Homo sapiens: one gene and its partners. The protein of the gene in region 1 purifies or fractionates together with the protein of each later gene. This does not show direct contact. Each region holds a gene or a part of one and is shown in the gene's direction. Other genes may lie near its edges. The genes, in order: MARK2, PPP2R5E, CERT1 and FUCA1.

What was found.
Region 2: the proteins of MARK2 (region 1) and PPP2R5E purify together in Homo sapiens (affinity purification with mass spectrometry; 2 studies listed by BioGRID and IntAct, with this or other methods). This does not show direct contact.
Region 3: the proteins of MARK2 (region 1) and CERT1 purify together in Homo sapiens (affinity purification with mass spectrometry; 3 studies listed by BioGRID and IntAct, with this or other methods). This does not show direct contact.
Region 4: the proteins of MARK2 (region 1) and FUCA1 purify together in Homo sapiens (affinity purification with mass spectrometry; 4 studies listed by BioGRID and IntAct, with this or other methods). This does not show direct contact.

The regions. Positions count from the first base shown.
Region 1 is NC_000011.10:63,891,097-63,898,126, forward strand, and holds part of MARK2 (serine/threonine-protein kinase MARK2), read left to right. Parts: intron 1-4,062; coding exon 4,063-4,242; intron 4,243-4,483; coding exon 4,484-4,537; intron 4,538-7,030. UniProt on the Homo sapiens protein: Serine/threonine-protein kinase. Involved in cell polarity and microtubule dynamics regulation. Phosphorylates CRTC2/TORC2, DCX, HDAC7, KIF13B, MAP2, MAP4 and RAB11FIP2. Phosphorylates the microtubule-associated protein MAPT/TAU.
Region 2 is NC_000014.9:63,540,364-63,547,601, reverse strand, and holds the start of PPP2R5E (serine/threonine-protein phosphatase 2A 56 kDa regulatory subunit epsilon isoform), read left to right. Parts: upstream 1-4,224; 5' UTR 4,225-4,823; intron 4,824-7,238. UniProt on the Homo sapiens protein: The B regulatory subunit might modulate substrate selectivity and catalytic activity, and might also direct the localization of the catalytic enzyme to a particular subcellular compartment.
Region 3 is NC_000005.10:75,377,270-75,382,654, reverse strand, and holds the end of CERT1 (ceramide transfer protein), read left to right. Parts: intron 1-577; coding exon 578-706; intron 707-1,453; coding exon 1,454-1,583; intron 1,584-3,181; coding exon 3,182-3,309; 3' UTR 3,310-4,880; downstream 4,881-5,385. UniProt on the Homo sapiens protein: Shelters ceramides and diacylglycerol lipids inside its START domain and mediates the intracellular trafficking of ceramides and diacylglycerol lipids in a non-vesicular manner.
Region 4 is NC_000001.11:23,851,263-23,858,292, reverse strand, and holds part of FUCA1 (tissue alpha-L-fucosidase precursor), read left to right. Parts: intron 1-3,732; coding exon 3,733-3,933; intron 3,934-7,030. UniProt on the Homo sapiens protein: Alpha-L-fucosidase is responsible for hydrolyzing the alpha-1,6-linked fucose joined to the reducing-end N-acetylglucosamine of the carbohydrate moieties of glycoproteins.

The DNA.
Region 1 (7,030 bases):
TGTGAATGGGGGTCTCACTGTATTGCCTTTTTAAATATATTCTTTTTTTTTTTTCCTTTTTGTGAACAGCAGGTCTTGAACTCTTGGGCTCAAGCTATCCTCCTGCCTCTGCCTCCCTAAGTGCTGCCTGTAAAGGCATGAGCCACTGTGCCTGGCTTGATGATGTTGATGATAATAATAAAGTTAATATGTGCTGAGTAGGTGACAGATTTAGGATTTGAAACCTGGCAGCTTATCTCCGACATCTACAGTCTTAACCAGAAAGGAAGAGAATGAATGGTACAATCTTGCTTGTGGTTGTTAAGCTCCTTGAGGCCCACTTGTGCAGCAGGGCCAGGCAGGGAATGCTGACCTGCTGTGCCACACAGACCAGCCCCTCGGTTCACCAAGAGGGATGGGCAGAGCAGAGCTCAGGATGGGCATGGGATGCCCAGATTTGGTCTCAGTTGGCAAAAGGCCCAAGTCTGCAGGTAGATGCTAAATCCCTGGTCTGGATTTTGAGAACTTAGAGACCGTCACACTTCCTGCTGCCTTGGGCTTATATCCTCGGAGAAACAGGGAGTGACAACAAACTTAGAAGGTGAACTAGAGGTTGCCAAGGAAACTTTCCCACCCATCTTCCTCTCGTAGGAGTTGGGGCAGAAGGAAGGTTTTTTCCTGTTCATTGCCCGTTAGGCAGATGGGTAGGGTTGGAGGCAGTCTAGCAGCACTGAAAGGGAGGATGGGGCTGAGAAAAAGGTAGCCTGAGGAGACCAGGCTTTCAGTACCCTGCTGGACAGGGCTAGGGTACCCTTCAGGAGGCTGGCCCAATCAGGTGCCAGCAGGGCCTAGAAATGCCCTTCTCTCCAAGGGGTGTGAACCCTAGAGTTCCTTTGGAAGGGAAAAAAGCAGGTATTTAAAAATCCACTTGTCTTGCAGACACTGTTTGAGGACCAACCAGGCTTAGGTGAGCTACAGGGTGCGTGGAGAACAGAGCACCAGAGAGCTCTGTGGGCTGGAATGAGCAGACAATAAGAGCTGGGGGGCTTCATGGAGATGCAAAGGTTGATGAGGAAGAGAGAAGGAAGTTAAAAGGGCCTCTTCTGGGATGTGAGGAGCCTCCCCCTTCAAACATCTACCAAATGCATGGGATCTTCCTCCTCCAAGGTCCAACCCCATGTGTTTCTGGGATCTGGTCAAACAGCTCACCAAAAGACAGCCTGCAGCTACCATGCAAAGGCCCTACGTGGGCACAGTGAAGAAGGGGAAATGTCAGAATCAGGATACTGTACTTAACTTGCTGCTGTCGTTTCTGCCTGAAAAGCATCTGGTTGAGCTAGCAAGCTTCTTGTCTAGGAATGCTGGACAGTTCCTTGGGTAGTAGCAAGTCATTCTTTTTTTCTCTGTGGTTTTTGAGTGCTTCACGTACAGCCAGCAGGGGCCATGAAAGGAAGAACTTTCACTCACACTCCTCTGGTCACCCTGCTGCCCTCCAGACTGTTTCCTTGAAGTTTCCAAGGCAGCTCTGGATGGTTCTGGGATGAGGCTCTGGCCTCATATGCTTTGTTGCAGTATGCTGGAGCGATCGCTCCAGATGTTCTTTGTGAGATGTAAACCAGGGCGCTAATCAGGAGTTAGACCAGACTCTGCATTTTTTTTTTTTTTTTTTGAGACAGGGTCTCGCTCTATCACCCAGGCTGGAGTACAATGGCATGATCATGGCTCACTGCAGCCTCGAACTCCTCCTGGGTTCAAGCGATCCTCCCGCCTCATCCTCCAGAGCAGCTGGGACTATAGGTGCATGCCACCACACCCAGTTGATTTCTTAATTTTTTTTTTTTTTTTTTTTTGAGACGGAGTTTCACTCTTGTTGCCCAGGCTGGAGTGCAGTGGTGCGATCTCAGCTCACTGTAACCTCCTCCTCCTGGGTTCAAGCAATTCTCCTGCCTCAGCCTCCCTAGTAGCTGGGATTACAGGCACCTGTAATCCACCATGCCCAGCTAATTTTTTGTATTTTTAGTAGAGACAAGGTTTTACTATGTTGGCCAGGCTGGTCTCGAACTCCTGACCTCAAGCAATCCACCTGCCTCAACCTCCCAAGATTTCTTAATTTCTTAATTTTTTGTAGAGACAGAGTCTCCCTATGTTGCCCAGGCTCGTCTCAAGCTCCTGGCCTCAAGTGATCCTCCTGCCTCAGCCTCCTAAAGTGCTGGGATTTAGGCATGAGCTACCTTGCCTGGCCTAGACTCTGAACAGTTTTAGTGAGATACCATAAGTTTATCCAAGTTTCTTCTGTGTTGTAGCATATATTCTTTTTTACTGCCAACCAATATTCCCCGGTAAGGATATGCTACGTTTGTCTATCCGTTCATCCAGCTGATGGGCATTTGAATTGTTTCCACTTTTTGACTATTATGGATTATGGTGCTGTGAACCTTGGTTACAGGTTTTTTGTGGATTTCTGTTTTCATTTCTCTTTTGTATATACTGAGGAGCGGAATTGCTGGCTCATATAGTCTGTGTTTAGCACTTTGAGGAATGTACACGTCTTCACATAGATGTATGTTTTTTGTCTAGACCATACCCTTTTTGTACAGGTTGAACATCCGTAATCCAAAAGCCAAAATGCTCCAAAATCTAAACTTTTTGAGTGCCAGCATGATGCCACAAGTGGAAAATTCTACACGTAACCCCATATGACAGGTTATAAGCAAAATTCAATCACTTTATTTCATGCACAAAATTATTTTAAAATGTCATGAAATTACCTTCAGGCCATGTATATAATGTACACATGAAAAATAAATGTTTAGACTTGGGTCCCATCCCTGAGATATCTGATTATGTATATGCAAATATTCCAAAATCCAAAACAATTTAAAATCTGCCACGTTTCTGGTCCTAAGCATTTTGGATAAAGGATATTCAACCCGTATTATGTTTATATGCCTCTTCAGTGCTGGTAGTTGTAGCTTCTGCTTCCTCATCCCCTCATTTGAGCCGGGTGGCAGAGCAGGGCAGACTGCTGCCTTGCTCAGACCTAATCGTTCAGTTCTTTCATTGTACAAGTATTCATTGAGCAGCAAACATAAGCCAGTCTCTCTAAGTGCTGGGATGTATCAGTGAATAAAGAATATATGCCTGCTTTCATGTGCTTCCATTTTTACTGGGGGAGATGGCAAATAAATGTAAAGTGATAAATAACAAAGGTTCAGTGGGGCATTCGTAGTTCAGCGGCAGAAATTTCGTCTCCTACGCGGGAGACTCGGGTTCGACTTCGGCCATGCAGTCCTTCCATGCAGGAAGGGCTACTACGTTTCTACCCAACAAAGTTATTATGGCTGGGCGCAGTGGCTCACGCCTGTAATTCCAGCACTTTGGGAGGCCAAGGCGGGCGGATCACCTGAGATCAGGAGTTTGAGACCAGCCTGACCAACATGGAGAAACCCTATCTCTATTGAAAATACAAAATTAGCCAGGCGTGGTGGCGCATGACTGTAATCCCAGCTACTCGGGAGGCTGAGGTGGGAGAATTGCTTGAACCCGGGAGGTGGAGGTTGCGGTGAGCTGAGATCGCACCATTGCACTCCAGCCTGGGCAACAAGAGTAAAGCTCTGTCTCAAAAAAATAAATAAATAAAAAATAAAGGTTCATGTAAGTTTTGGGTGGCGATGAGGGCGTTGAAGCAGTTATGACCATGTAGCTACCATGACTTTGAGATGCAGTCTTCTCGCAGTGTGCACAGGCAGCATGGAGGGAGGCAGGGTACCGGCTCTCCCTCCTGAACCAGACGAGCTGTTGTGTTGCCAATGGAGGTTCAGGGAGCCAGTGATGGGACAGCTCTGCTCCTGAGCTTTGCCACCCACAGGACCTGGGCACTGGACCTTATGATGTGCTTCTCTGGAGTGAAGACTGGCTGTCACCTCAGCCCCCTCTCCTTTCTTCTGCTGCCATATCATTCTTCACATGCCTACCAGCCCCCTGGAATCTGCCCCTGCACCCTCATCCCTTATATATTTTGCAGAGAGCGTTTAGAGGACTGGAAGTGTGGCATGTAATGGTATCTCTGTTTCCACCCCGCAGCCCACCTTGGGACACCTTGACTCCAAGCCCAGCAGTAAGTCCAACATGATTCGGGGCCGCAACTCAGCCACCTCTGCTGATGAGCAGCCCCACATTGGAAACTACCGGCTCCTCAAGACCATTGGCAAGGGTAATTTTGCCAAGGTGAAGTTGGCCCGACACATCCTGACTGGGAAAGAGGTGAGCACTGGGACTGGGGACATGGCAGCACCTCCCAGCCCTGTTGACACTCCAGCAGGTGGTGATGGGACTACTACTGCAGCCAACCTCTTGTTTATCCGGCAGAAATGAGATCTGAGATATAGGGGTGCAAAAAGCTGTGGGATGAAAAGGAGTAAGAAATATAAAGGAGGAAGTAGATTGGAATCCTGGGTTTCGCTGGTCAGAGAAGTGATTTGGGGCCTTTTTGTCTCATCCTCAGGTAGCTGTGAAGATCATTGACAAGACTCAACTGAACTCCTCCAGCCTCCAGAAAGTAAGCACATGGCACCTCCTGTCCCTTTTTTTTTTTTTTTTTTTTTTTTTTTTGAGTCAGAGCCTCACTCTTGTCGCCCAGGCTGGAGTGCAATGGTGTGATCTCGGCTCACTGCAACCTCCGCCTTTTGGTTTCAAGCGATTCTCCCGCCTCAGCCTCCCGAGTAGCTGGGATTATAGGCACCCGCCACCACACCTGGCTAAGTTTTGTATTTTTAGTAGAGATGGGGTTTCACCATGGTAGCCAGGCTGGTCTCGAACTCCTGACCTCAAGTGATCCGCTCGCCTCGGCCTCCCAAAGTGCTAGGATTATAGGCGTGAACCACTGCCCCCAGCCCACCTGTCCCTTTCTAAATCTCTCTTCTGGGGTCAATGATCTACTGACCCCATTTAGACCTTCTCTTGAATTCCTAGTTTAAATTTTCTGGCCATTTCGCTCACCGTCCCCCAACCATTCCCTCCCATGGCTCTGCTACCTTCGGGGCTTTGGTTGGATCATCTGTGGTGACTCCTCCTGAGTGGGCTTCCTGGCCATAGGCACTGGCTCTTGTGAAGTCTTTCTGTTCATTCCCAGCCACTTGGCCTACCTGTCTGACCTACTTCCTGCATCTTGTTATCTTCTGGCTTGTGGCCAGCCCTATGCAAAAACACATGTTTGTAGCCACTACTAGAAACACGTGCAGCTACTTCAAGATCTGGAATGATACAGGGGAGTGGCTTTAGAAATACAAGAATAAGAGGAAGCAGGGAACCTGCCGGTGGGTTCTGTGCCAGCTACCTTTTAGAGAATGAGCTCCAGCTCAAATTTTCTGAACAAAACCTAGTTCTGTTCATCTTGTGGCAAATCAGATATTTTCTCCATAAGCATATTGTGGCAGTTGAGTTAGGAGAAGGCATGATTCGTGCTAACAGAGTCAGATAGTGATACTGGGAACCTTAGGAGTAAGGGCTGAGGATTGTTGTTGAGGGCGATGCTCATGGAATTAGAGTGGATGAGTTGTTCTCCGGACATGCAAATAGCCAGAACCAAGGTGTTTCCTATTTATTGTTACCCCTGGGATCCCTTCAAGGGTTCTTCAGTTCAGTAGAAACATTGTTGTCATCATCAGGGTGTCTCTGCTTGAAGCTTTCCAGGAGGAAGGGAAAAAGGGCTGCTTATGACATCCTGGCTCCAGCCCCACAGAAGAAGTCAGCGTGGGGTAGGCCATTTGGCCTTGGGAGCAGTCTAGCCTGCCATCGTAATAATCGCCAGTCCACCAAGCCATCTTATTCCTGACCTTGTTTTTCTCCCTAATTCTTCTTGGTTTTCTCCCTAATTCTTCCTGACTCTCTGGAAGGCACCAACACCAGACAAATAGAGCCATTTTCAAAACCTTTTGAGACTCTTTGTTACTAAAGCCAGTCTGATTCTGGCCAAAAATGTGATCTCAGCAATGATCCCTGAAAAATGAACATTGAAGAAGCTAGCCCCCTCAGGGGTCTAGACAAGCCCAGAAAACCCCAAGTTCTCCCAGAAGAATGTCACTTCCATGCCAGGTGAGCAGCCTCAGGGGAAGAAGCCCTGGCAGCTGCCTCTGGCCCTATTTCAGAGCTGCTCCCCATTACTGCCCCAGAGGGTGGTATCCAGGCTTTTTGCCTCTCCATCCAAAATATCTGTTGGACCAGGGAAAAAAGTAAGAAAAACCTAGGCCCTAATAAAGGGTAAGGTCAGCATTGGGTTCCTGAGGATTGGAAAGCCTTTTTCTTCTTTTCCTTTCTAGCTTAGGAAAGCTCTGGGGCATCATTAAAGGGGAAACAAATGTATTCACTTTATTCCATAAACCATATCTTGAATTAGGGCTTCCCCTACCCCCAACAAAAACAACAACAAAAACTAGTTCTGTTCTTTGTGCAAGTGATGAGGCCTGAAATTACAAAAAGCCCCACCTCCAGTTCTCTGGCCCCCGCAGAGGGGAAGGAGTTCATTTCTGTCATCTTTCTTTATGGAAATACATGGTTTGGAGCCCCTGGTTTTGTTTCACAAAGAGAGCGTGAGTGTGTGGAGGTGGATTTGATTAAAATTGGCATCAGCTATATATAGGAGTGGCTTCTTCTGTCACCACCCTAGAGGCCCAGGAAGGAAAGGCCTATCCCCTAGAACAGAGCCCTCTGACTACTGTAAATCAGAAAATGATGGGGTCCCCCTCTGGTGCTCTACCACCCCTTTACACAGACCAAGCTGGGGTGTGTACTGTCACTGAACCAAGGCAGCAGCTCGGATTCTGAATATTCACGCACACGGGCTCACACTCCCTCCAGTAGAGGCACCCAGCCAAAACCTGCCTGCTGTTTTGGGGCTGGATTTGGTAGACGCAGCAGAGGGCATGGCTGGCTCATCCTGATGCCATCCCGGGTAGCACGTCCCCACAGCCAGCCCTCCTCCAGCTTCCCCAACTTCCCAGCCACAGGGAAGGCCGTGCATGAGCTAGACAACCACCCTATTTTCTTTTCCCTG
Region 2 (7,238 bases), on another chromosome or scaffold:
CTGTTCTTTCCTCTCAGTCCACGACCAGCTTCATGTACCCCGCCACTCCACACACACCAAACTAGTCTACCTCTGATCATGATATCTAATCAGCATAGGTCTTTTCCTCCTCTACTGGTTGACAATTGTTCTGACGATGCTTCTACTTATTATTTTAGTTCTCCTTTAGTTCCCCAGCCAGCCATCATTTGATAGTCAATGTCTTGGTCTTATCACGTGGCTAGCTCACTAGTAGATTCATGATAAGCTCAGCTTTGATATCTGGGAAGTGAATGCTTTCATGTGAGAGCAATAGACTACATTTTGTCACTTGATAATGGCCTCTCAGATGGCTATAATGTTTTTCTTTTCATTTTTTTTTGTTTTTTGAGATGGAGTCTTGCTGTGTCACCCAGGCTGGAGTGCAGTGTTGGGATCTTGGCTCACTGCAACCTCCGCCTCCTGGGTTCAAGCAATTCTCCTGCCTCAGCCTCCTGAGTAGCTAGGATTATAGACAGCTGCTACCAAACCCAGCTAATTTTTGTATTTTAATAGAGACGGGGTTTCACCATATTGGCCAGGCTGGTCTCGAACTCCTGACCTTGTGATCCACCTGCCTCGGCCTCTCAAAAGTGCTGGGATTACAGGCGTGAGCCACTGTGCCCGGCCTAGAATGTTTTTATTCACAGGCTACATCATGTCACACTACAGAATCCAACTCCTGGGCTCAAGTGATGCTCCGACCTCAGCCTGTGGAGTAGTTGGGACTGCAGGCCTGTGACATTGTGCCTGGCTTCCAAACTTCTTTTTTTTGAGACAGGTTTTCACTTTCTCTCCCAGGCTGGAATGCAGTGGCATGATCATAGCTCACTGCAGCATTGACCACCTGGGCTCAGGTGATCTTCCCACCTCAGCCTCCCAGTAGCTGGGACAACAGGAGCGTGCCACCAGGCCTGGCTGATTTTGAAATTTTTTTCGTAGATAAGGGGTTTCACGATGTTGCCCAGTCTGGTTTCAAACACCTGGGCTAAAGTGATCCACCCTCCTCAGCCTCCCAAAGTGCTAGGATTACAGGCATTAGCTGTGACATCCAGCCAAAAAAATTCTTCCAAATATATGTGTATTTGTCCATAAAGTATAGACATACGCTACCATCATTAGCTTAACTCAATCAACATATACACTTAGAATGAAGTTCAATTCTTAATAACAGTGGATGTAGGCTGGGTGCAGTGGCTCACGCCTGTAATCCCAGCACTTTGGGGGGTCGAGTGGGGTGGATCATTTGAGGTCAGGAGTTCGAGACCAGCCTGGCCAACATGGTGAAACCCCGTCTCTACTTAAAATACAAAAATTAGCCAGGTGTACATGCCTGTAATCCCAGCTACTTGGGAGGCTGAGGCAGAAGGATTGCTTGAACCCGGGAGGTGAAGGTTGCAGTGAGTCGTTTGCGCCACTGTACTCCAGCCTGGGCGACAAAGCGAGACTCCATCTCAAACAACAACAACAACAACAACAACAACAACAACAACAACAACAACAACAACAGTGGATGTAAATTTACATTTCAAGTAGCCTTGATTTTTTTTCTAGTCAAAATTTGATTGAATTTATTAGATTGGTATTTTACTTTTGAAAAGTGGCTGTCAAAGATTTGATACTGGGCTGGGTGTGGTGGCTCATGCCTGTAATCCCAGCACTTTGGGAGACCGAGGCGGGTGGATCACAAGGTCAGGAGTTTGAGAACAGCCTGGCCAACATGGTGAAACCCCGTCTCTACTAAAAATACCAAAAAAAAAAAAAAAAAAAGAAAAAAAAGATTTGATACTGAAGAGTCAGTTCTAACATTTTCTTCTTGTTCTCCCGTGGTTTATTTGCAAAGGACTCATAGAGTCATTTGTCTGTTTTATGAGGGTTAGTTTAATTAAACTTAGATAATATAATCAGTAAGTCCACTTAGTTGAATCCAGAAACTGCAATAAGAAACCGCAATAAGTCATATGTTGTCAGGGGCTGATTGGGTGGGCCCACCACTGCCAACCCCTAGGAATGGGTAACTCCCACTTTTCCCTGAGGACATCTCCTATGCTGTTCTAGGCCAAGGCACCATTCCATGGACTGAGGGCAGAGCCATTCACTCTATATAAAATAGTAGTTGACCGTAATGCCTTTTAGATTAAAATTAAATGTAAATATATTTCCTAATACTTTCTTTTACTGCATCCGAAATAGATTGTCTTGCACTATTCTTGGAGTACCGAAATCCCTGGGATACATGGGAGAAATTACTGGTCCAGAGAACAATTTCTCACATAGGCAAGGATGTTTCCATTTTAAAAAACCTGCTCATTTCAGTTGCTCAGCCATTTTATAGAAAGTGAAATGACTTTGAAATGAATTGTCTTTATAGAGATCCATAATTTGCAAGCAAAATCCCCACTCTATGACATGTTCTAAGCAACAGCTGTGAGAATTTCAAACGTGCACTATGCTTTTAACAGTTCAACTGTTGCCAAGGGAAATTGAATTGGCTTCAAAATCTTCCTTGGTTTTAATTCTGAATTTACCCTCAATCAAAGATTGAAGAAAACAGGTCCTTGGCTGGGACACTGAACTTTCATGAAGACTGTACAGGATATTGAGATATGGAAAATTTAAGGTTCTTGAGGGTAGGAACTAGACTGCTGGTATTCTATAGTTCATACTTAGTGGTGATGAACTTTATCACGGCAAAAGTGGGCACTAGCCATACAGTGGCCAATCATCTGGAGTCAGTAGGGGGAGACTGCTTCCATCTAAGAGTCATCTTTTCGTTTTCCATTTCAGTTCAAAGCAGGAATATTTTTATCTTTCATGGCACAAAATTATTTTTCCACTCAAGAGCCATTTCTGGGAGTGTGCAAAGAAAATTTCAAAACTCTAGTGTTTAACAACACAAACAGGAGAAATGCAAATGCATTTTTCGTTGTCACTTGTACATATGGTACATATAGTTTTATTTATATATAGCTCTATTCCCTAACCGTATCGAAAAGATGATATAATGCTGAGGGAAAAAACTAGGCTACAGATCGACACACATTATTAACATAAAGAGAAAAAATACTAAAAGGAAGTATGCAAATACTGTAAGTGGTTATCTCTGAGTTGAGAAAATAAGAATGTTAATTTTTTTGTCCCCCCCCCCAATTTCTAAGTTTTGAACAACTGGTACTCTGACGTTTGTAGTTAGCATTAATAATTTCTTTCTTCCTTTTTTCCTCTCAAAAAATGTACGTAGGGTGCATTCAAATACATTAATCCAAGAATATTATCTGGAAATGTACCATTTGGCCGTCTGCATTCACCAAGCATGCAAACACATCTCCAAATATCTCATCACTTGTTCTAGATAGATTTAAGTAGTCTTCTCCATTAACTCTTTCGGGTCCAACTTGCCAATTAAAATCTCGAAACTCCTAGTTTGGAGCTGGGTCTTTCCGAGCTCTGAGCAGTCGGCTGACTGGCGGGTTATTCTGAATGAATAGACTGCAAACTGTGGCGACAGCGTTCCCACCTGCATTAATTAAACGAGCGCTGGCTTCAACGCTACAGGGGTCTGATATTCAAAACAGACGTTTAAGGAAAAGGAGATGAGGTGAGAGAAAATTCGAAGAAGGTTCAGCGGAGAGCGACTGCTGGGGGTTTCAAGGGGCCCATTTACACAAGCAGTGGCACACCGGCACGGGCGGGGGATCTTATTCCTGCCTACGCATCACAGGGTCCCGTCCAGAGTGGGACTCCCCAAACCCTGAGGGGCCACACTAGCTGCAGGGCGGGATCAAGTCTCCGGGGCTCCCCGACCCTTAGACGACCCGAGCCCTTGGAATCCTCCGGTCCAAGACGACCGCCGCCCAAAGGCTCCGCACAGCACGGAAAGCCAGCCCGCTGATCCGCTAGTCGCACACCTCCCGGAATTAAAGAGCTCCTCTCAGGCCCAGCGGCTTCTCACTTCAGCTTGCCCCACTGCCGGGCGGAAGCGGCGGCTGCACCGCCCGAGATCGCGGCTGCATCCGGGTTCCTCAAGCTTCGGCCCAATCCTCGACCTTCTCTCTTCCCACCCTCCCGTTTCTCCGCCCTCCTGCCGCCAATCCCTGATCAGGTCTCAGCCGAACATGCTGTCAGGGGAGTGAAGGCGGATACTGGCCAATGAGGCCTCGCTTCCCGTTTGAAGTCTCCAGTGGGCGGGCGCCGGAGGCGGGCGCTGCTGGCCAGAAGGTTCGGTTGCGCGTGTGCCATGGACTCAGCCGCCCGGTGATATTGACAATAGGAGAGAGAAAGGGGCATTGACTGGGACCCACCGCGGGTAGCGAAAGGTGGCTCTGGCAGCGGCGGCTCCAGCTCCTGCGGCTCCTCCTCCTTATTCTGTCCCCTTCTCTTGCTGCCGCTGCAGATCCAGTCTTCCTCCCTCCCTTCCCCCCCTCCCCACGTCGTCGCCGCCGCCGCCGGGTCCGGGGCAACGAGCTGAGGCGCCGCCCGCCAGGAATGTGAGCGAGGAGCCACCGGCGGAGCCGCAACGGGGTCGGTGCCGATTTGATGGGACGGGCCCGCGGGGGAGGATCGTGAGGCCGCCGCCGCCACCGGAACGCTGAGGTTCGGGTCCGGCCGTGAGGCCTAGAGGCTCCGCCGCCGCGGAACCGGAGGGACCCCGTACCGGACAGCCGTCGCCCCAGGCTCCCCGCAGCTGCCCGGACCTCCCCCTGCACGTCCCGGTCCCGCCGCCCGCCCCCGCTGCGGCCACCTCGCCCGTCTCCCGCCCCTCCAAGCCACAGATCATCTTTGGATTCTTCCCCAGAAGCTTCAAGGTAACTTAGTCCCTCCAGCACCGCGGCTCGCCCGCTTCCCTTCTTCCTCCCGGTCCTCCTGGGGAACCTATGGGGCACCGGCCTTGGGAAGGCCTGGCCGGGCAGGCGAGGGGTGCGGTGGGGTGGGGTGCGGGAGCGGGAGCGCCCGTCCCACTTGTCTGATTTACCTACAAATGCTTCTGATGATACCTCTCATTCACTCTGCCCCCTCCCCCCTTTTTCTCCACCTTCTGGGATTGGAGGCGTTTTCTTGCCCCCCTTTATCCACTGGCGGGGGCGGGGAATAAAGAGGGGTTTGGTGTGAGGAGGATTCTCTAGCAGCTTATCGTCTCCAGGGCTTGGGGTGTGGGTTAGGAGCAAAGGGAGTATGTAAGCATCCCCACAGACAAACCCCTTCCCTGTCTTTCCCTACTTCCCCTTACCCCCTTTGGATTATCCTGAGCCATGGAAATGCCCCATGCCTGCTGATTAGAGGATGATAAAGCTTCGGGAGCCCTGGCCCAGGGCGAAACCTGTTTCCCTGGGCTTTGCACGGACCCGCTGTTACCTTACGTTCAGTTTTGCAGTGCTTCAGGGTTGCGATCCTTGACGTTTATTCTGGGCCTCGGGCATAAGGGGTAAATGATTTTTTTAAAAGCTACCTATATATCGTCTGTAGAGATGAGAGATAAGGAATAAAGAAGAGACGAAAAGAGTGATGGAGGAAGAGGATTTACTGAAATGTTGTAGTGTTAGAGTTAGAGTGAAGTCTAAATAATTCACATACCCGAATGGAAAATCGGCCCCTAAATTTACAACGTACAAATAAGATGTGGAGCTTTTGGCTGATGCAGTCATTTTGATATTTTAAAGTGATCTTAACATCTATAGTCATTCATAGTTTGTGATTCTATTTTGAATCCATCACATTATATTAAGGCTAAATTAGGTAGATTTTTAAAAACTTTTTTTTTTTTAAAGAAAACCAAAGAAGACTTCCAAATTCCAAACGTCAACATCATATGTGTGCATGTGTTTTAAAATGTTTTTGTTATTTTTACATTGTCAAAATCCACGTAATCCAGGTAACTTTTTATTCTCACGTGTTCAGGAAGAAATTCCCTTACTGTTTTATTTAGAAGTTAAAAACCACTTGTCTTGTCTATTGGAATGACAGGTGAGTAATTGCATTTCAGCATTTCCCCCATATGCATTCTTTCTATCCGAGTCTGCCATTAGTCTTGCATGAAGCCTCAGTGCCATGGAAATGATGGCATCTGTTTAATTTGGTGAATGAAATTAAGCTTAACGCTTGTTACTTTCAGGAAATAGCCTTCATTTTAATAACTCGAGAGGGTTAAACAATTCAAAAGTGCTATTCAGTTCCGTAAGTTTGATGGAATGAAAATTGGTATTTGATGATGAACTTCAAGGTCTAAACCTCAAGGGAACTCAACTTGGTTGTTTCAGTAGGCTGTGAATTTATGTTTTCAGTTCAACTTTGGTGCTTGATTTTCTCATAGTTTTTATTAAGCGTTAATAACGTAAGGTGGCTTCATTCAAAAAGAAGACTTATTTGAAATATTTTAATTATGCCTTTTATGTGTTTTGTTTAAAGTAATCTAGCCTGTCCTCATTTGCAGTGTGGTATAGTTTATCATAGCTAACATAGCACATCCCATTAAAAGTTATGCCTAGATAGTTTCAGTAGTAGTAAATTTCACCTTGCTGTGATACATTGGTATAGATTCTTGAAGTACACTAAGGGTTTTTCAACTCCAGAACCCATTCATAATATTAAGTATCTTGGGAAAATGTATCAATGGAAGTTTTCCAGTTACAGAATAGCTCCAAAAATTACTTGAAGATGTGAAGAGCTTTGCAGTTAGAAAATGGGCAGGCAGCATAGATTTCTTTAAGCCTAGATGAGTATCTTTAATGCTTATAATGGAGTGGCACAATACATTAGAGTTCTCATATTGTTTCCGTGATACTTAAATTATTTTCACTAAATTTTCATGTTTTCCTGTTAACATATGACTTTTCTTTTCTTTGTTTGTTTCTTTTTTTTTTTTTTGAGAAGGAGTTTTCCTCTTGCTGCCCAGGCTGGAGTGCAATGGCATGATCTTGGCTCACCACAACTCCGCCTCCCGGGTTCAAGTGATTCTCCTGCCTCAGCCTCCCGAGTAGCTGGGATTACAGGCATGCGCCACCATGCCTGGCTAATTTTTGTATTTTTTTTTTTTTATTAGAGATGGGGTTTCTCCATGTTGGTCAGGCTGGTCTCGAACTCCCAACCTGAAGTTATCTGCCCGCCTTGGGATTACGGGTGTGTGCCACTGTGCCTGGCTTTTTTTTTTTTTTTTTTTGAGATGGACTCTTGCTCTGTTGCCCAGGCTGGAGTGCAGTGGTGCCATCTTGGCTCACCGCAACCTC
Region 3 (5,385 bases), on another chromosome or scaffold:
TAAAGTAGGTAGTCCCATTTATTGAAGACCTAGGCTCCATGTCATTCCCATAGTATATGTTTCCCCTTGCATACCTTAATATTGAAATATTTAATCTAAGTGACTTAGAATTCTTTCTAATGTGATTTGATTCAAATAAGTCTTTTTTCATTAAATCTTTGAATCTAAGTAGAACATAATCATGGAGTATGAGGAGAGAGGAATGGAAAGTTGTTGCTTACTGGGTACAGAGTTTCTGTTTGGGATGATGATAAATTTCAGAGATAGCAATATGGTTACATAACACTGTGAATGTAATTAATGTCCCTGAATTGTACCCTAAAAGTTAGTTAAAATGACAAATTATACGTGTATATATTTTACTGCAATTAAAAAAATAGAACATTATTCCTTTTATTATATTGTTCTGCAAAGCTATTAACTCTGTTCATAATTAATCATTTGGTAGATATCCTCAGATGCTTTCCATTTAAAATTTGAGAGATTTTACCTTCAATTAAGACATTTATTGGCATTACGTTTCTCTTGTTAGTTCCATGTTAGATCTGTTTTTCAAAAGATTTTTACTTCTCCACAGAGGGTGTGGCCTGCTTCTCAGCGAGACGTATTATATCTTTCTGTCATTCGAAAGATACCAGCCTTGACTGAAAATGACCCTGAAACTTGGATAGTTTGTAATTTTTCTGTGGATCATGACAGTGCTCCTGTAAGTACATGTATATAAATGTGTATAATTAAACAATATAAAGCTAAATACACAATGCGGGACAAAAATGATAAACACAGCCCATACACTATACTTGATTTGATAATGGTTCTTAGATTTTATGTTGGATTGACTGCTAGGAACAGTATAGCCCATGTGTTGTCTGAGGGCAACAGTCATGCCTATGAACATTCCACCAGGGCCGTTTACCTTTCCTTCTAATGTTTCGTGAAACAGCCAAAAGGGCAGTACATACACTGGGCAGTAGGCTACTTCCCACAGTTATCTCTTAAGCCGTTATCAACTGCCAGCCAAACCTCTGTGGTTTACCACAATTTAGCTCCATTTACTACTTAAGAGGAAGGGATCCTGGGCAACATGGTTAGACCCCATCTCTATTAAAAAAAATTTTTTTTTTTTTTTTAATTAGCCAGGCCTGGTGATGTGCACCTGTGGTCCCAGCTACTCTGGAGGTTGAGGCGGGAGGATTGCTTTGAGCCCAGGAGTTTGAAGCTGCAGTGAACTATGATGGCACCACTGCACTCCAGAGTGGGCAACAGAGCAAGACCTTGTCCCCAGAAAAAGTGGGTGGGGAGGAATCCTGGTGTCATATCAGCTTGGTGCTTATAAGATTTCACTGGAGATACTTTTAAGAGTTACGATTTTGGTTAACCTAATATAATATTAGACCAGCAGAGTTTACAAAATACTGGGTATCTACTGATGCTTTGTTTTTTGTTTTGGCAGCTAAACAACCGATGTGTCCGTGCCAAAATAAATGTTGCTATGATTTGTCAAACCTTGGTAAGCCCACCAGAGGGAAACCAGGAAATTAGCAGGGACAACATTCTATGCAAGATTACATATGTAGCTAATGGTATGTATTTTATTGTTTTTGCTCTTTGATAATGTGGCTGTTCTTGATCATGACCTATATGACAACAATTTGGACAAATGCCTTTTTAGTTCTTATCCATTAGATTACTAATTTTTAATTTGGAGAAAGGTATATCAGAATTACTAGAGAATCTTTGAAAGTACAGATGTCTGAATTTCACCCTGGAACTACTACTATATGAGTATTTCTGAAGCTAGAGCTGGATAGGAAAATTTTAAAACTTTATCCCTAGGTCACTGTATATACCCTTCTTTTTTTTTTTTTTTTTTTTTTGAGATGGAGTCTCGTTCTGTTGCCCAGGCTGGAGTGCAGTGGTGCAGTCTCAGCTCACTGCAGCCTCCGCCTCCTGGGTTCAAGCGATTCTCTGCCTCTGTAGCTGGGATTACAGGTGCCCACAACCACGCCTGGCTAGTTTTTTGTATTTTTAGTAGAGACGGGGTTTCACCATCTTGGCCAGGCTGGTCTTGAACTCCTGACCTCGTGATCCACCCACCTCGGCCTCCCAAAGTGCTGGGATTACAGGCGTGAGCCACTGCGCTCGACCTAGCCTTCATATTAAGCACCATTTTCTTAGATATTTGCCTCATAGAACAGATTTATTATTAGGAATATAAGCAACAGTGGGGAAGGAAATTAAGAGTTCTTTTACTCATTGTCAGCCTTTTTAGCTTTCTGAATCAATGTTCCCCTAGTCCTTATTAGTTGCTAGTTACATATTTATTTCTCTTTGACATTCATTGTCAGGCTTTTTGTTTTCTGAGTCAGCGTTTCCCTAGTCCTTATTAGTTGCTAGTTACATATATTTGTTTCACTTTGGATAGGTCTTTTCATTGCTTGCTTTGGGTCCTTACTTCACCTGCTTTGCACCTGGAGTAATCATTGCAACCTCTCTCATCAAAAGTCATACCTTCTTTATACAGGGCCATAACTGCTAGTATGTTCAAAGAAACAGTTGTACCTGAGTAAGTTACTATTTCATTATAGTACAGATTTGTGAATAATCTGCCCTAAATAACCTTAAGTGGTGCTATACTAATTTTTGCAGGTAATTTCGGGAACTAAGAACATTGTAGAAAGGTTATAGATGCTTTCTTATTTGCTGTCTGATTATGTCTGATGGATAGTGTTAAGGAATGAAGGGTTGGGACTTAAAAGATCATAATTGGTCCAGCTGGGTACAGTGACTCAGCCTGTAATCCCAGCACCTTGGGAGGCTGAGGCGGGCGGATCATGAGGTCAAGAGTTCGAGACCATCCTAGCCAACATGGTGAAAACCCATCTCTACTAAAAATACAAAATTAGCTGGGCATGGTGGCGTGCACCTGTAATCCCAGCTACTCCGGAGGCTGAGGCAGGAGAATCACTTGAACCCCGGAGGCGGAAGTTGCAGTGAGCCAAGATCGCGCCACTGCACTGCACCCTGGCAACAGAGCAAGACTCCGTCTCAAAAAGAAAAAAAAAAGATGCTAATTGGTCCAATGTGAGGAATATTTTAAAAACAAGGGAACAAATTAAGTGCTTCACATATGTTTGGAGAATTGTATCTTAATACATTTTAATTTTCCTTTATCTTGCAGTGAACCCTGGAGGATGGGCACCAGCCTCAGTGTTAAGGGCAGTGGCAAAGCGAGAGTATCCTAAATTTCTAAAACGTTTTACTTCTTACGTCCAAGAAAAAACTGCAGGAAAGCCTATTTTGTTCTAGTATTAACAGGTACTAGAAGATATGTTTTATCTTTTTTTAACTTTATTTGACTAATATGACTGTCAATACTAAAATTTAGTTGTTGAAAGTATTTACTATGTTTTTTGATGTTCCCCTATAGAGTATTGTTTCGTTGGTTTTTGTTGTTGTCGTTGTTGTTGTTTTAAACAGGGTCTTGCTCTGTTTCCTAAGCTGAAGTGCAATGACACCATCACGGCTCACTGCAACCTCAACCTCTGGCCTCAAACAATCCTCTCATCTCAGCCTTCCCAGTAGCTGGGAGTCCCCACAGGCATGTGCCACCATGCTCAGCTAATTTTTTATTTTTTGTAGAGATAGGGGTCTTGCTATGTTACCCAAGCTGGTCTTGAACTCCTGGCCTCAGACAATCCTCCTGCCTCAGCCTCCCAAAGTGCTGGGATTACAGACATGAGCCACCGTGCCTGGCCTTGAAAATTGTAGTTTATAGCCTTTAAAACTTAATTCTTTTATTGTTTCCTTTTTCTTCTAATGCTTATGTAAAGAAATTTTGATATTATAGAACTGTAGAATTGTAGAAGTGCAAACTTCCTGTATTCTTTCCTTTCCCAGAAACTGTTATTTTTGTTGTATATTCCTCCAGATTTTTCTGTGTATGTACTGACATATTTTTGAATGTTAAAATGTTTATACTTACTATTATACAAAATTCTTGTTTTATAACCTTTTTTTCACTTAACAATGTATCTTGACTATCTTTCTTTATAAGACATGAGATGTGTAAAACATCTCATTCTTTTAACATCTGTTACATGCATGTTGCAGAATTTATTAACTAGTCCCATGTTAATGTCTGAGTTGGTTCCATATTTTTACTGTCAACCAGTACAGCACTGAACACCTTTATGCAAAGAGGTAGAATCTTTAACTTTATTTTGGTGTTGTTGAGACAAAGTTTCTCTCTTGCTGCCCAGGCTGGAGTGCAGTGGTGCAATCTTGGCTCACTGCAACCTCTGCCTCCCAGGTTCAAGCGATTCTCCTGCCTCAGCCTCCCGAGTAGCTGGGATTACAGGCGTCCATCACCACGCCCAGCCTATTTTTGTATTTTTAGTAGAGGCAGGGTTTCACCATGTTGGCCAGGCTGGTCTCGAACTCCTTACCTCAGGTGACCTGCTCTCCTGGGCCTCCCAAAATGCTGGGTTTACAGGCGTGAGCCACTGCACTCAGCCCAAAATCTTTAACTTTTTAAAGTAAGTGATACGTTAACATGATTAAAAGCCAAAAGTGGCCAGGTGCAGTGGGTCACACCTGTAATCCCAACACTTTTTGGGAGACTGAGGTGGGAGAATGGCTTGAGGCCAGGAGTTCAAGTCTAGCCTGGATAACATAGCAAGATTCCATCTTGACAAAAAACAATTAGGCGTGGTGGTATACATGTATAGTCCTAGGTACTTGGGAGGCTGAAGCAGGAAGATCGCTTTGTCTGGGAGTTTGAGGCTGCAGTGAGCTGTGATTACACGACTGCACTCCAGCCTGGACAGGTAATGTCTGTCAAAAAATAAATAAATAAAGTCAAAAGTATGAAAAAGTTATACAGTAAAATTTACCCTGTCTTGCATTCACCATATAGTATTAACATATGCTATTACTAGTTTCTTCTAGAAAGTTTTTAATGCTTGAATGAACAAATACAAGTGTATTTTCTACACAGATACACTTTTTTTGTTGTTAAAGAAGCAGCAGCATACTATAAACACTGTTCAACATCTTATATTTGCATTTATTTTATCTTGAAGGTCTCACATATTTGTAAGGAGCTTCCTCATTTTGATGGTTATACAGTATCCCATTGTATAGATGTACATAATTTATTTAATCAGTTCTGCATTGGCGAATATTACAGTTTCCAATTTCTGCCAGAGCAGTGTCATAATTGTATCCATATGTCATTTTGTACTTGCAAGTTTATATGTGGGAAAATTAATAGATGTGGTACTACTGGCCCTGCTAGGGGTTTGTGCATAATTTAGATACTACTTTTCATAGAGGTTATAGTAATTGACCATCTCAACAGCAATAATGAATTGGAGTCCCTGT
Region 4 (7,030 bases), on another chromosome or scaffold:
GATCGAGACCATCCTGGCTAACACAGTGAAACCCCATCTCTACTAAAAATACAAAAAGAAATTAGCCAGGCGTGGTAGTGGGTGCCTGTAGTCCCAGCTGCTCAGGAGGCTGAGGCAGGAGAATGGTGTGAACCTGGAAGGCAGAGCTTTCAGTGAGCCGAGATCGCGCCACTGCACTCCAGCCTGGGCGACAGAGTGAGACTCCTTCTCAAAAAAAAAGTCTAAGGGTCTCATTGGGTCTCTATTACTAAGCTCAGAAAATGGGAAGAAAGAAAAAAACAGATTCTATATGATGCACAGAGACAGATTAAGAGTGGTTTTCTAAGGCCGGGCGTGGTGGCTCACGCCTGTAATCCCAGCACTTTGGGAGGCCGAGGCTGGTGGATCACGAGGTCAGGAGTTCAGGACCAGCCTGGCTAACACGGTGAAACCCCGTCTCTACTGAAAATACAAAAATTAGGCCGGGCCTAATTTTTACATGCCTGTAGTCCCAGCTACTTGGGAGGCTGAGGCAGGAGAATGGCGTGAACCCGGGAGGCGGAGCTTGCAGTGAGCCAAGATGGCGCCACTGCACTCCAGCCTGGGCAACAGAGCGAGACTCTGTCTCAAAAAAAAAGAAAATACAAAAATTAGTCGGGCGTGGTGGTGGGCACCTCTAATCCCAGCTACTCGAGAGGCTGAGGCAGAGAATTGCTTAAACCCGGGAGGCGGAGGTTGCAGTGAGCAGAGATCGTGCCACTGTACTCCAGCCTGCGCAACAGAGCGAGACTCTGTCTCACAAAAAAAAAAAAGAGTGGTTTTCTGGAACTTGATGAATGTTTGTGACCTCCCAGATGTGCAGTTCATCCCTAGGTAATGAACTCTGATGTGATGTCATATCGTAATTGTCTGCATATCTGTCTCTGCTAGTCTCTGCTGGATCGTTGAGGGCAAGAACTCTGTTTTATTCACCTTGGAAACTCAGTGTCTGCCACAGTGTGAGCCTCATGGTAGTTGCTGAATAAATAGGAAAAGTAGGTGGGTGTTGAACCAAGAATTCAGATTGTTAATACCCCATTTGTCTCTGAAATGGCGTCTATGTATATATGTTCAGGGTGTATACCCCTCGAGCTAGGTCGCTTGCTACGTGAGGTTACAGTCTAGTGTTTGTGCTTAAGGAGTATCACAGAAGGAAAAATGACTAGCCAAAGATGCAGGATTGGGAAAGGGAAGAAAATATCAACCCCAGTGTCATTTAAAAAGCATGACTAGCTAGACAGCCTGAACTTTTTTGGCTTTTTTTTTTCTTTTCTTTTTTTTTTGAGAGGGAGTCTCGCACTGTCGCCCAGGCTGGAGTACAATGGCACGATCTCGGCTCACTGCAACCTCCGCCTCCTGGGTTCACACAATTCTCCTGCCTCAGCCTCCCGAGTAGCTGGGAGTACAGGCGCACACCATCACACCTGGCTAATTTTTTGTATTTTTAGTAGAGACGGGGTTTCACCATGTTGGCCAGACTGGTCTTGAAACTCTTGACCTTGTGATCCACCCGCCTCAGCCTCCCAAAGTGCTGGGATTACAGGCGTGAGCCACCGCTCCCGGCCGGCCTCTCTTAAACAATAATTCCTAAGCAACCAGGACCTTCTGTGTGGGTGTGCCTCAACCCATCTTCACAGTAGCTTCGCAGACATATGGGGACTGTAGATTCTCCTTCATTTCTACCAGGATTTATTGAGAGCCGGTGCCGTAGCATGCCGCATGCTAAGCCTTGGAAATGCTGAATGAATGGTTTCTGCTCTTAGGGAACTACAGTCTGAAGAGAAAGACAGACATACAAACAAAGTACATTGTAGGGTGACCAGTATGATAGTAGAAGTATGTCCTGAGGTCTCCACAATCCATAGACACTGGTTCGAATGCCAAAGTGGAGGGTACTGCATTAGCTTCTGTGGGATGAAGGAGTGCATGGTTGTGTCTGTCCTTGACAGGCTGAGTGTACAGGGAGCGTTCACATCACCTGAGGACTCTGAGAAAGAGGAGGTGTGGCAAGGAGACACCTTTATTCACTCTGAGCCAGAGTCTGGGCACACTGTCACTTTTATCCCTCCCTCTCAAACCCCTGTGAGGTGGGTGATATTTGCCTTTGGATTTTGTTTGTTTGGTTGGTTTTGTTTGTTTGTTTTTATAGATAAGTAACTAACTTAAAAGGTAAAGTTACCTGCCTAAGACCCCTTGACTACTAGGTGGTGGAGCCAGCTATGAACCTCAAAGCCCTTGATAATCTTGTAACCAGGCATAAACTCTGATATGATGTCATATTGTAATTGTCCACATATCTGTCTCCTCTGCTAGTCTCTGCTGGATGGTTGAGGGCAAGACCTCTGTTTTATTCACCTTGGAGACCCAGTATCTGCCCACAGTGTGAGCCCCATGGTAGTTGTTGAGTAAATACTTATTGAATAAGCGGATGGGTAGGTGTTGAATGAAGAATTAGGATTGTTAATACCCCATTTTTCTCTGAAATGGCTTTTACATACCTGTTCTTGAATTGATCTTGAGTTGTCCTTTTCAATTCTGTGACCCATGATGCCCAGACATTGATAATCAAGTACCAGACATTGGATTGAACTAGTTACAAATAATGACTATTCTTCTATTTCTCTTTGGCACTTAACTAGCTTCCATAGGAGAAACTTCATACCAATGTGAATGACTCTAAAACAGGCAAGAAATGGGAATTTTAAACTTTTAATAAATCTCTTTTTGCCGTGATGAATTGAACATGGTTTCAGTTTTGTTTTTGTTTTTGTTTTTGAGACGGAGTCTCGCTCTGCTGTTGCCTAGGCTGGAGTGCAGTGGCACGATCTCGGCTCACTGCTACCTCCGCCTCCCAGGTTCAAGCGATTCTCCTGCCTCAGCCTCCCAAATAGCTGGGACTACAGGCATGTGCCACCATGCCCAGCTAATTTTTTGTATTTTTGGTAGAGACGGGATTTCACCGTGTTAGCCAGGTTGGTCTCTATCTCCTGACCTCATGATCTGCCTGCCTTGGCCTCCCAAATGGTTTCAGTTTTTATCTTGTATTGGCCACTCTGTTATAAAATATGCTGCATTTAACATTTACATTAAGATATTCCATGTATGATTTATCATTCTTCAGCTAAACCTTGAAGTAAGAAAAAGAATTTGCTATTTTTTTTTTTTTTGAGTGGGATTGTCTTAAGACTTTTTTTTTACGTAAGTAAGGCTGGGATTATATAGTTGGAAAACAGCCTGCCATGGGTTCAGATACCTGATTTGTAGTTCCAGCTTTTGAAACTGCCTAGGGGCATGGCCCCAGGCAGGTCCTCTCCTGTTCATTTCTCCTCTTATAGAAAAAGTGATTTACCAGATGATCTTTAAAGCAAGCTCTCCCAGCCCTGACATGTATCTCTGCAGCAGGGTTTCTCTACCTCAGTACTGTTGACATTTAGGGCTGAATATTTCTTTGCTGTGGGGGCTGTCCTGTGCATTGTAGGACGTTTAGTAACATCCCTGGTCTCTACCCACTAGATGGCATACCACCCCCGTTGTGACAATCAAAAATGTCTCTAGACTTTACCAAATGTCCCCTCCAGAGCAAAATTGCCCCCAGTTGACAGCCACTGCTCTAGACTAAGTTTCTTGCTTCCAAATAGAGCCTTACCAAAGTGTATTACATAAAGAAGTCAAGTGGTTTTACTCCTCATGACCAAATATTCTTTCCCTCCTTAGGATGAGGTGGTAGTAAATGACCGATGGGGTCAGAACTGTTCCTGTCACCATGGAGGATACTATAACTGTGAAGATAAATTCAAGCCACAGAGCTTGCCAGATCACAAGTGGGAGATGTGCACCAGCATTGACAAGTTTTCCTGGGGCTATCGTCGTGACATGGCATTGTCTGATGTTACAGAAGAATCTGAAATCATTTCGGTAAGAGCACCTTTGAGTTTTTTGTTTTTGTTTTTTTTTTTTTAACATGCAGTATGATTTATTTTATATAATGTTCAAAAGCTTGCAAAAACAGCATATTGTTTACAGATGCATATTTTGGAGGTAAAATTATGAAGAAAAGCGAGATCATTATAAACAAAATTTAGGAGGGGGCTGGGATGGAGAAGGGCATGCAAAAGGGCTTTAACGGTGTTGGTTGTAATCTATATCTTAAAGTGGGTGTGGGTAGTAGGGTGTCCAGTTTTTTATTTATTTATTTATTTATTTATTTATTCTTTATTGATCATTCTTGGGTGTTTCTCACAGAGGGGGATTTGGCAGGGTCATAGGACAATAGTGGAGGGAGGGTCAGCAGATAAACAAGTGAACAAAGGTCTCTGGTTTTCCTATGCAGAGGACCCTGCGGCCTTCCGCAGTGTTTGTGTCCCTGGGTACTTGAGATTAGGGAGTGGTGATGACTCTTAACGAGCATGCTGCCTTCAAGCATCTGTTTAACAAAGCACATCTTGCACCGCCCTTAATCCATTTAACCCTGAGTGGACACAGCACACGTTTCAGAGAGCACAGGGTTGTGGGTAGGGTCACCGATCAACAGGATCACAAGGCAGAAGAATTTTTCTTAGTACAGAACAAAATGAAAAGTCTCCCGTGTCTACCTCTTTCTACACAGACACGGCAACCATCCGATTTCTCAATCCTTTCCCCGCCTTTCCCCCCTTTCTATTCCACAAAACCGCCATTGTCATCATGGCCCGTTCTCAATGAGCTGTTCGGTACACCTCCCAGACGGGGTGGTGGCTGGGCAGAGGGGCTCCTCACTTCCCAGTAGGGGCGGCCGGGCAGAGGCGCCCCTCACCTCCCGGACCGGGCGGCTGGCTGGGCGGGGGGCTGACCCCCCCACCTCCCTCCCGGACGGGGCGGCTGGCCAGGCGGGGGGCTGACCCCCCCACCTCCCTCCCGGACGGGGCGGCTGGCCGGGCGGGGGCTGACCCCCACCTCCCTCCCGGATGGGGTGGCTGCCGGGCAGAGACGCTCCTCACTTACCAGACGGGGTGGCTGCCGGGCGGAGAGGCTCCTCACTTCTCATATGGGGCGGTTGCCAGGCGGAGGGTTTCCTCACTTCTCAGATGGGGCGGCTGGGCAGAGACGCTCCTCACCTCCCAGACGGGGTCGCGGCCGGGCAGAGGCGCTCCTCACATCCCAGACGGGGCGGCGGGGCAGAGGCGCTCCCCACATCTCAGACGATGGGCGGCCGGGCAGAGACGCTCCTCACTTCCTAGATGGGATGGCGGCCGGGAAGAGGTGCTCCTCACTTCCTAGATGGGATGGCGGCCGGGCAGAGACGCTCCTCATTTTCCAGACTGGGTAGCCAGGCAGAGGGGCTCCTCACGTCCCAGACGATGGGCGGCCAGGCAGAGACGCTCCTCACTTCCCAGACGGGGTGGCGGCCGGGCAGAGGCTGCAATCTCGGCACTTTGGGAGGCCAAGGCAGGCGGCTGGGAGGTGGAGGTTGTAGCGAGCGGAGATCACGCCACTGCACTCCAGCCTGGGCACCATTGAGCACTGAGTGAACCAGACTCCATCTGCAATCCCGGCACCTCTGGAGGCCGAGGCTGGCGGATCACTCGCAGTTAGGAGCTGGAGACCAGCCCGGCCAACACAGCGAAACCCCGTCTCCACCAAAAAAATACGAAAACCAGTCAGGCGTGGTGGCGCGCACCTGCAATCGCAGGCACTCGGCAGGCTGAGGCAGGAGAATCAGGCAGGGAGGCTGCAGTGACCCGAGGTGGCAGCAGTACAGTCCAGCTTCGGCTCGGCATCAGTGGGAGACCGTGGAAAGAGAGGGAGAGGGAGACCGTGGGGAGAGGGAGAGGGGGGAGAGGGAGAGGGAGAGGGGAGTTTTTTGTTTTTTTTAATGAAATGGGGTCTTGCTCTGTCATGCAGGCAATAGCGCAGTGGCACGATCATACCTCACTGTAACCTCAAACTCCTGGGGCTCAAGTGGTCCTCCCACCTCAGCCTCCTGAGTAGCTAGAACTACAGGTGTGCACCTCTACAACCAGCTAATTTTTAAATTTTTTGTAGAGACAGGGTCTTGCTATGTTGCCCAGGCTGGTCTCAAACTCCTGGCCTCAAGAGATCTAGCCTCAGCCTCCCAAAGCACTGGATTACAGGCATGAGCCATGGCAGCTGGCCTGAGTTCACTATTTTTTAACTATGGATCTCAAACCACTTTTTATTATTATTATTATTATTATTACCTTCTAACATACTATATGATTGATTTTAATTATTTTTTTCCTCTTTTTTTAAATTTTACTTTAAATTCTGGGATACAAGTGCAGAGTGTGCAGGTTTGTTTCATAGGTATACATGTGCCATGATGGTTTGTTGCAAACTATCAACCCGATATCTAGGTTTTAAGCCCCACATGCATTAGGTATTTGTCCTAATGCTCTCCCTCCCCTCACCCCCACATTCCAACAAGCCCTGGTGTGTGATGTTCCTCTTCCTGTGTCCCATGTGTTCTCATTGTTCAACTCCCACTTATGAGTGAGAACATGTGGTGTTTGGTTTTCTGTTCCTGTGTTAGTTTGCTAAGAATGATGGTTTCCAGCTTCATCCATGTCCCTGCAAAGGACATGAACTCATTCTTTTTTATGGCTGCAAAACCAGCTTTTTTATGTAAGAGTGATGTCCAGCTTCATCCATGTCCCTGCAAAGGACACATTCTCTTTTATGGCTGCAAAACCAGCTTTTTTATGTAAGAGTGATGGAAGTACTCTGGATAGAAGTGCAGGTCAATAGAACCCTTTTAAGGACATTGAATAGACTAACAGAAACCTGTCCTAAGGAAATAATTAGAGTTACACAAGAAAGTTGTGCAGAGGTCCTTCCCAGGATTATTTGTATGTATGTATGTATGTATGTATGTATGTATGTATGTATGTATGTGTATATTTATTTATTTATTTATGAACGAACTTCACTCTGTCACCCAGGCTAGAGTGCAGTGGTGCGATCTCGGTCTGCTGCAACCGCCGTCTCCCGGGTTCAAGCAATTCTCCTGCCTCAG